Homo sapiens: one gene and its partner. The protein of the gene in region 1 purifies or fractionates together with the protein of each later gene. This does not show direct contact. Each region holds a gene or a part of one and is shown on either strand. Other genes may lie near its edges. The genes, in order: BBS12 and BBS4.

What was found.
Region 2: the proteins of BBS12 (region 1) and BBS4 purify together in Homo sapiens (co-immunoprecipitation; one large-scale study listed by IntAct). This does not show direct contact.

What each region holds. Positions count from the first base shown.
Region 1 is NC_000004.12:122,739,005-122,742,826, reverse strand, and holds part of BBS12 (chaperonin-containing T-complex member BBS12), read right to left. Parts: intron 3,455-3,822; exon of another isoform or gene 2,108-3,454; intron 945-2,107; 5' UTR 935-944; coding exon 1-934. UniProt on the Homo sapiens protein: Component of the chaperonin-containing T-complex (TRiC), a molecular chaperone complex that assists the folding of proteins upon ATP hydrolysis.
Region 2 is NC_000015.10:72,727,615-72,731,436, forward strand, and holds part of BBS4 (BBSome complex member BBS4), read left to right. Parts: intron 1-325; coding exon 326-380; intron 381-2,001; coding exon 2,002-2,070; intron 2,071-3,690; coding exon 3,691-3,822.

The DNA of each region.
Region 1 (3,822 bases):
TGTCAAACATAAATGGTTTTGTACAGTTGCCTTGTTGCACACAAGCATTCTGATATTGCAGCTGTACTGCTTCTTCTACTAACTTCATGCTGCTGTGATCTCCATGACTCAAGCCTACTGCCAACTCTACCAAATCATTACATCTGTAAGTTTTGTGAGTAGCTGTAACATGTTCTTGAAATCCATCTGGTTTGCTTACCCCTTCAGTATTATCTGTCCTATTAAAATGCCTACTGTGGATTAGTATTGACTGTCTGCAGCAGGTATCTGCAAGCAGGCTGTTTTTCAGAGTTCGTGATGTGTTGTTATCTGCTTCAACCTTTGTCTGAGGTTTAAATAATTCATATGATTTAAGAGGTCTCCCAGAAAGGTTGGAAATGGTCAGTGTTTGAGAGGCAACATCTTTGAGACCATGCAATTCCTCTATCAAATCAGTATCTGAAGGGACCTGTAGAAAAGGACACAAACTTACACTAAATGTTTCAAGTTGAGAAAATGTTTTTGTGCTGTCCATACAGTCAAATATATTGTGAACAGGTACATGAAGAGAAACTACCTCTTCACTACAAAAGTTTAAGCCTTCTGACATTACTGATACTATTATGGAAATGGGGACACCAAGATGAAGACATTCTTCAACTGCACTGCTCCAAGCACCAACAAGAAACAAAAGAGTACTGATTCCAGTTCTATATGTGTTGTTTTGTGCTTGAACTGCTTCATTGAGAAGTTGTCCCACTGCACTGGTTAAATCCAAACTTTCAAGAAGCCTTACTGTTGAACTGATTAATACACTTTCATGACATTCTTCATCTATAATAAATTTGGATGATTTTAGTGGGCCTAGGAAAGTTCTTCCTGTTTCCGCGAATGATGAAAGTTGTTGAAGTCCCATGTGTCTTCTTTTGTTTACGACTCTGCAAGCCATCACCATGTATCATGATCTGCAAACAAAATAAAAACTTGTAACTTTATTCAGTATAATTCATAGTTATAAATGCTATATAGAAATAAAAACAAGATATGCTCCCTGCTTTTGAGGTACATATAATTTCCATGAAAAGTGGTCAGTGCAATGATACAGTATTATTATTCTATTAATGATAAAGGTATGGGGGAATGGAAGAGAAACACTCCACCCAACAGAGGAAATGAAGCATGAGGGCTGTAGGCAACGTTTCCAGAAGAAAGCAATTCTTGGAATGAGTCTTGAAAAATAACTGGAAAGAGTTACAAGTTGAAGGAGGTAGTAGTAAATGTACATATATGTGAAAAAAACATAGTGTATTCAGGGAAATAGAAGTAGCCTGGTTTTATGAGAATATAAAAAATGTAGTGGAGCGGCTGGGCGCAGTGGCTCATGCCTATAATCCCAGCACTTTGGGAGGCCGAGGCGGGCGGATCACGAGGTCAGGGGTTCGAGACCAGCCTGGCCAATATGGCGAAACCTCGTCTCTACTAAAAATACAAAAATTGGCCGGGTGTGGTGGCACGCACCTGTAGTCCCAGCTACTTTGGGGGCTGAGGCAGAAGAATCGCTTGAACCCAGGAGGCGGAGGTTGCAGTGAGCCAAGATGGCGCCACTGCACTCCAGCCTGGGCAACAGAGCAAGACTCAGTCTCAGAAAAAACAACAACAACAAAAAAAAACATGTAGTGGAGAACAGTAGCAGATGAAGCTCTAGAAGAGGAAATGAGCTGGTTTACGAAGGGCATTATGTGCCATAGCAAGTAACTTAAACTTGATCCTGTAATGGGAACCGTTAAAATGTTTTTAATAAAAAAGATCAAGAAACAACTTGATGTAGTGTTTGAAAACATGTACTCTAAACCTAGAAGTCTGGGTGTGAACTTAATCCTACCGCTTTACTAGCTATATAGCCCTCAGCAAGTTATGTACTTTATCCCTTAATTTCCACATCTAAAAAACAGGGATAATAATAGAAGCTATTTCATAGTCATTATAAGGAGTGAATATAGTACTTAGAACAATGTCTGGCACCATGTTTTATGAGTTCTTGTTTTAATAACAATAATAATTGTAATGTTTTGGATATATTACCACTCTGATAACACCGTAGAGGACTGACTAGACAAGTACCAGACTGGAGTATATCCCATTATATATTATAGCACTACAAACATTCCTAGTCATTCCTTCGTTTCATTCATTCATGCATTTAGTGAGTATTTCTTAAGCACCTACAATGTACCAGGAGGCACTGTGTTAATTGCCGGGATTACAAAGACAAAGATTATACATACTCTGCCCTCAAGGAACTCCCAATCTAATTGTGCAGAGAGATATGAAAATGAAGCATAAAAATCCATCGTGAGCAGTGCTCAGAACAAAAGTCTGTTCAAAGCAAGACACAACCATGGATTTATTCCACCACAGGTTCAATGGGAAAGGTATGTGGCATTTCTCCTCCTCTTCAGAATAATGAATGCTTGACATAGCTTTCGTCAGTCTTTCAGTTCCAGTGTTACAAGGGAGATCCCCAGTATTACAAGTCACAGCGAACTCAGAAATGATTAGCATTCTTTTTATTTTTATTTTTTAGACAGGGTCTCGCTCTGTCACCTAGACTGGAGTGCAGTGGCATGGCTCACTGCAGCCTCGACCTCCTGGGCTTAGGTGATTCTCCCACCTCAGCCTCCCAAGTAACTGGGACTACAAGTGCATGCCACCATACCCGGCTAATTTTTCTATTTTTTTTGTAGAGATGGGATTTCGCCATGCTGCCCAGTCTGGTCTTGAAGTACCAGGCTCAAGCGATCCTCCTGCCTAGGCCTCCCAAAGTGCTGGGATTACAGGCATGAGCCACCACACCCAGCCAGCATTCTTAATGTTTGCTTACAAAGATATTTCTCTGTCAAAGTCTTCATTCACTTAAAGAAAACCATTTATGATGCATCTTAGAGAAAGCATGCTCACATTTGCCTTTTATTGCCAGATTTCTCTACTTGGCCTTAAAGGGAGCGGGGGCATGGGACGTGTTCTAATAATATATGCTAAACATGTAGGGGAGAGACAGCTTGTCATTGCAGAGGTGGCTGACTGCCACTGAGCTTCGCCCTTATACTCACCCAACAAATAGTTAATGAGGAGCTACCCCTAACTCCCCACATCCCCATACCCTCCGAAGCTGTCTACATGGGCTGCTCTGTCCTTGGCATGTGCCCTTGAGGGCTGATCCCACTTGGCCACACAAAGGTTTGTGCTCTAGGGTCTTTGAAAGAGAGAATTCCTGCTCTTCAACTTTCAAGCCCAAGCCTTAACATTTCAAGGGCTGCTTCTTCCTCTGAAATAAGTTGCTTTTCACTGGTCATTCATGATTTGGGTGAAAAGGTGGAGTCTGTAGTTCTTGGTTGCTTAATGCAAAAGGCCTGACTCACATTTCCTATAGTGCTGTGGGACATCCAGCCACAGGCATGAAAAGGAGGAGCAAATATCTTTAACTTTTGAATGAACTGTCTGTTTTCCATAACAGCTGAACATTCCCACCAACAATGTATGAGGGTTTTGATTTCTCCACATCCTCACTGCATCAGCTTCCTAGGGCTGCCATACCAAATTACCACAAACAACTGGGTAGCTTAAAACAATACTTATTTATTCTTTCACAGTTCTGGAGTCTAGAAGCCCAAAATCAAAATGCTGGCAGGTCCATGCTCCTTCTGAAGGATCAAGGGAAGAATCCTTCCTTGCTTCCTCCAGCTTCTAGTTGCTCCTAGTGGTCCTTGGCTTCTGACTGCATAACTCTAACCTCTGCCTCTGTTTCAAACAGCCTTCTTATAATCCAGTGATACCAGTCATTGG
Region 2 (3,822 bases), on another chromosome or scaffold:
GGTTTATAAAGCATTGTTCTTTAATTTTATCAGTGTGACCAAGACAGTCATGCAAAACATTCTATAGGTTCTTTCTTAGGACTTTTACCCTAAGAAAGGAATCTGAATTCTAAGCCTCATTTTTCTTGCTGAGCAGTTCTCCTTATCACCAGGGTTGAGATGACCTACTTTTGATGGCAATTCCCAAATTGCCTTCAGGTATTTCCACGGGGAGGAAGAGGCTCAGTGGGGTCTGTCAAGTATTGCACGAGGGCATATTACTGTGCATGTGTCTTCGTGTTTCTCATCTACATCTTGTTTCCCTCTGAGCATCTCTATGTTGCAGGTTCTCACCAGAAAATACAGAGCTTCTTACAACTTTAGGATTACTCTACTTACAGGTAATGAAAACTCTGTACTCATTCATGCACTGATGTTAGAAATGGTTTTGGGTTTGTGTGTATGGTGGTTTTCCTGCATTCTGATATTTATTTTATTAAAGGTCATATAAAGTTCATGAACTACACTCTCTCTATTCGATACTCTTTGCTAAAGGAATTAATTTTCTGCATTTAAATTGGAAGCAATTCTATTTTAGCCTAGTGCAATTATAATTCTTATCTAGGCTGGGTGTGGTCTCATGCCTGTAATCCCAGCAATTTGGGAGGCTGAGGCTGGTGGATCACTTGAGCTCAGGAGTTGGAGACCAGCCTGGGTAACATAGTGAGACCCTGTCTCTACAAAAAATAAAAAAATTAGCCAGGCATGGTGGCATGCTTCTGTAGTCCCAGCTACTTGGGAGGCTGTGATGGGAAGATTGCTTGAACTCGGAAGGCAGAGGTTGCAGTGAGCTGAGATTGAGTCACTGCACTCCATCCTGGGTGACAGAGCCAGATCCTGTCTCAGAAAAAAAAAAAAATTCTTATGCTATCCAGGAAAGAGCATATATGAGAAATAACTCTGGTCTTGGAGGCTGTTATTTTGTTGTGAGGAGAGAAACAGATACAAGTGAGCACTTAGGGCTTTGGGGCAAAGCCATTTCTTTTGATCTTTCTTCCCAGCCAGAGTCTTATTGGAAAGAGAGAAGGCAAAGTATACTTTTATCTAGAATAAGAAGTTTTCTGTCCCCTCAACATTCCTGAATGTGAATGGGATTCTTTTAGCTCCATTGATTCTCTGGCTGAGGACCCAGGGCCCAGGTATCCAAGGGGCTTTTCCCTCTTCCCCAATATACACATTTGCCAAGTTCCTTGGTCAGCTGATTCTGCCTCCAGCCCTGCCTCTGTGGTGGCCTTTATGTCTATTTCATTTTTCTTTAAAAGGAATCAGGAGCTTAACCCTGGGTCTTCCTGGGCTTTGGCTTGGGAGGTTGGCTCCACGGGAGATGAGGATACCCAGCTCATTTCCTGCAAAGAGGCATTAATGTGGAACAGTACTAGTGTGGCAGAGATGGTTCTTATCAAATAGATACTTTGACCTTATCAGGTGACAAATTAACAAAAATAGAAGGAAAACCATGACTGGGGATTTTTAGTTTTCTTTCTTTATTATCTGGTAACTGTAGCTGCTTTTTTTTTTTTTTTTTTTTTTTTTAAAGTCAAGAGAACTCAAAAAAGCCAGAGCATTTCTGTTCTGGGTGAGGTTGGCCAGACTGTTTTTTTTTTTTTTTTTTTGGAGACGGAGTTTCACTCTTTTTGCCTAGGCTAGAGTGCAATGGCGTGATCTCGGCTCACTGCAACCTCTGCCTCCTGGGTTCAAGCGATTCTCCTGCCTCAGCCTCCCAAGTAGCTGGGATTACAGGCATGTGCCACCATGCCTGGGTAATTTTGTATTTTTAGTAGAGATGGGGTTTCTCCATGTTGGTCAGGCTGGTCTCGAACTCCTGACCTCAGGTGATCCACCCACCTTAGCCTCCCAAAGTGCTGGGATTATAGGCATTAGCCACCACGCCTGGTCTGGCCAGACTCTTTTAACTGCCGTCTCCTTGCTGATGTAAATTGTCTTGTTTGCTTTTTTTCCAAGCTCGGCATTTACCAGAAGGCATTTGAACATCTTGGCAATGCACTGACTTATGACCCTACCAACTACAAGGTATTACAGGCTGTGAAGGCTCTGGCCTTCATATAGACGGTCCCACTGCTCCTAGAGGTGATCTGACCCTGGAAAGCAAAGGAATAGCTTCTTAAATTTGGATACCTGAGAAATAGAAAAAATATAAATAAAAGGTGGCTCTTCTTATTTGAAAATAGTGTCAAGTATGCTCTACTTATCTTCTAAAAGTGCACATTTGTTATAATAGACGTGTAACCCCTGCAGAAGGCAGATCATAGTGCTAGTAAAGCTTATGTGTTACTTAGGAAATTAGCAATGCCTCCACAACTATTGTCAAAAATAAATCTGCGGCCCGGCGCGGTGGCTCACGCCTGTAATCCCAGCACTTTGGGAGGCTGAGGTGGGCAGATCACGAGGTCAGGAGATCGAGACCATCCTGGCTAACACAGTGAAACCCCGTCTCTACTAAAAATACAAAAAAATTAGCCGGGCGTGGTGGCGGGCGCCTGTAGTCCCAGCTCCTCGGGAGGCTGAGGCAGGAGAATGGCGTGAACCCGGGAGGCAGAGCTTGCAGTGAGCTGAGATCACGCGCCACTGCACTCCAGCCTGGGTGACAGAGCGAGACTCTGTCTCAAAAAAAAAAAAAATAAAAAATAAAAAAAATAAATCTGCTGGGCATGGTGGCTTATGCCTGTAATCCCAGCACTTTGGAATGCTGAGGCAGGAGGATCACTTGAGGCCAGGAGTTCAAGACCAGGCTGGGCCACATAGTGAGACCCCCATTTCTACAAAAAAAATTATCCAGGCATGGTGGCACACACCTGTAGTCCTAGCCACTCGGAAGGTGGAAGAGGGAAGATCACTTGAGCCCAGGAGTTTGAGTCTACAGTGGGCTATGATGGCACCACTATACTCCAGCCTGGGTGACAGAGACCCTGTCTCTAAAAAGAAACAATAATTATGTTGAAATGACTTCTAGAGTCCTAATGATTTGATACTACAACTTTTTTTCTAGATGTGACTTTGGGAATGAGAAGGAATAGCATCAAATGGATGAACATCATTGAGGAGATGCAGCAAGACAAGCTGTTTATTAAAGGATACAAACTGAATTCTGATTTAGGAAGTAACATTAGACTGTCAGCTCCCACCTTGATACCTTTCCTTAGAGAAATGAAAGGGCTGGGCTGATGAAGCCTAAAGCTGACTCGCCCTCTGTTCTACGGTAGAAAGAAATTTACCTTAAGTAGCCACGTACAGGTGTATTTCAGGTATCTAGAACACTTGGTATACCAAATAGGGGCTGCAGAGAACAGATTAAAGGAAGTTTTTACTTAAAGGGCTCTGGTATTCATTCTGAAATACTGACTTTCCTGGCTAGAAGTAGGAAACAGATGGGTAAAGCAAGTAACATTTTATCTTTTTTTTTTTTTTTTTTTTTTTTTTTTTTTGTGCTGTGCCAGAGAGCCACAGTGTAGAGTGCAAGGACATTCCTCAGGAACATTTGTCCCAATAGGTTGGATATATTTATGTCCCTGGAAGAAATTTTCCAGTCCCATCTATGCTGATGGGCCTGCTGAGTATAGACTCAGGAAAGCTGCCCCACTGCTACAGCCTTTTGGGAATGACTGAATGACTTTCTCTGTGCCATGTTTTCAGGCCATCTTGGCAGCAGGCAGCATGATGCAGACCCACGGGGACTTTGATGTTGCCCTCACCAAATACAGAGTTGTGGCTTGTGCTGTTCCAGAAAGTCCTCCACTCTGGAATAACATTGGAATGTGTTTCTTT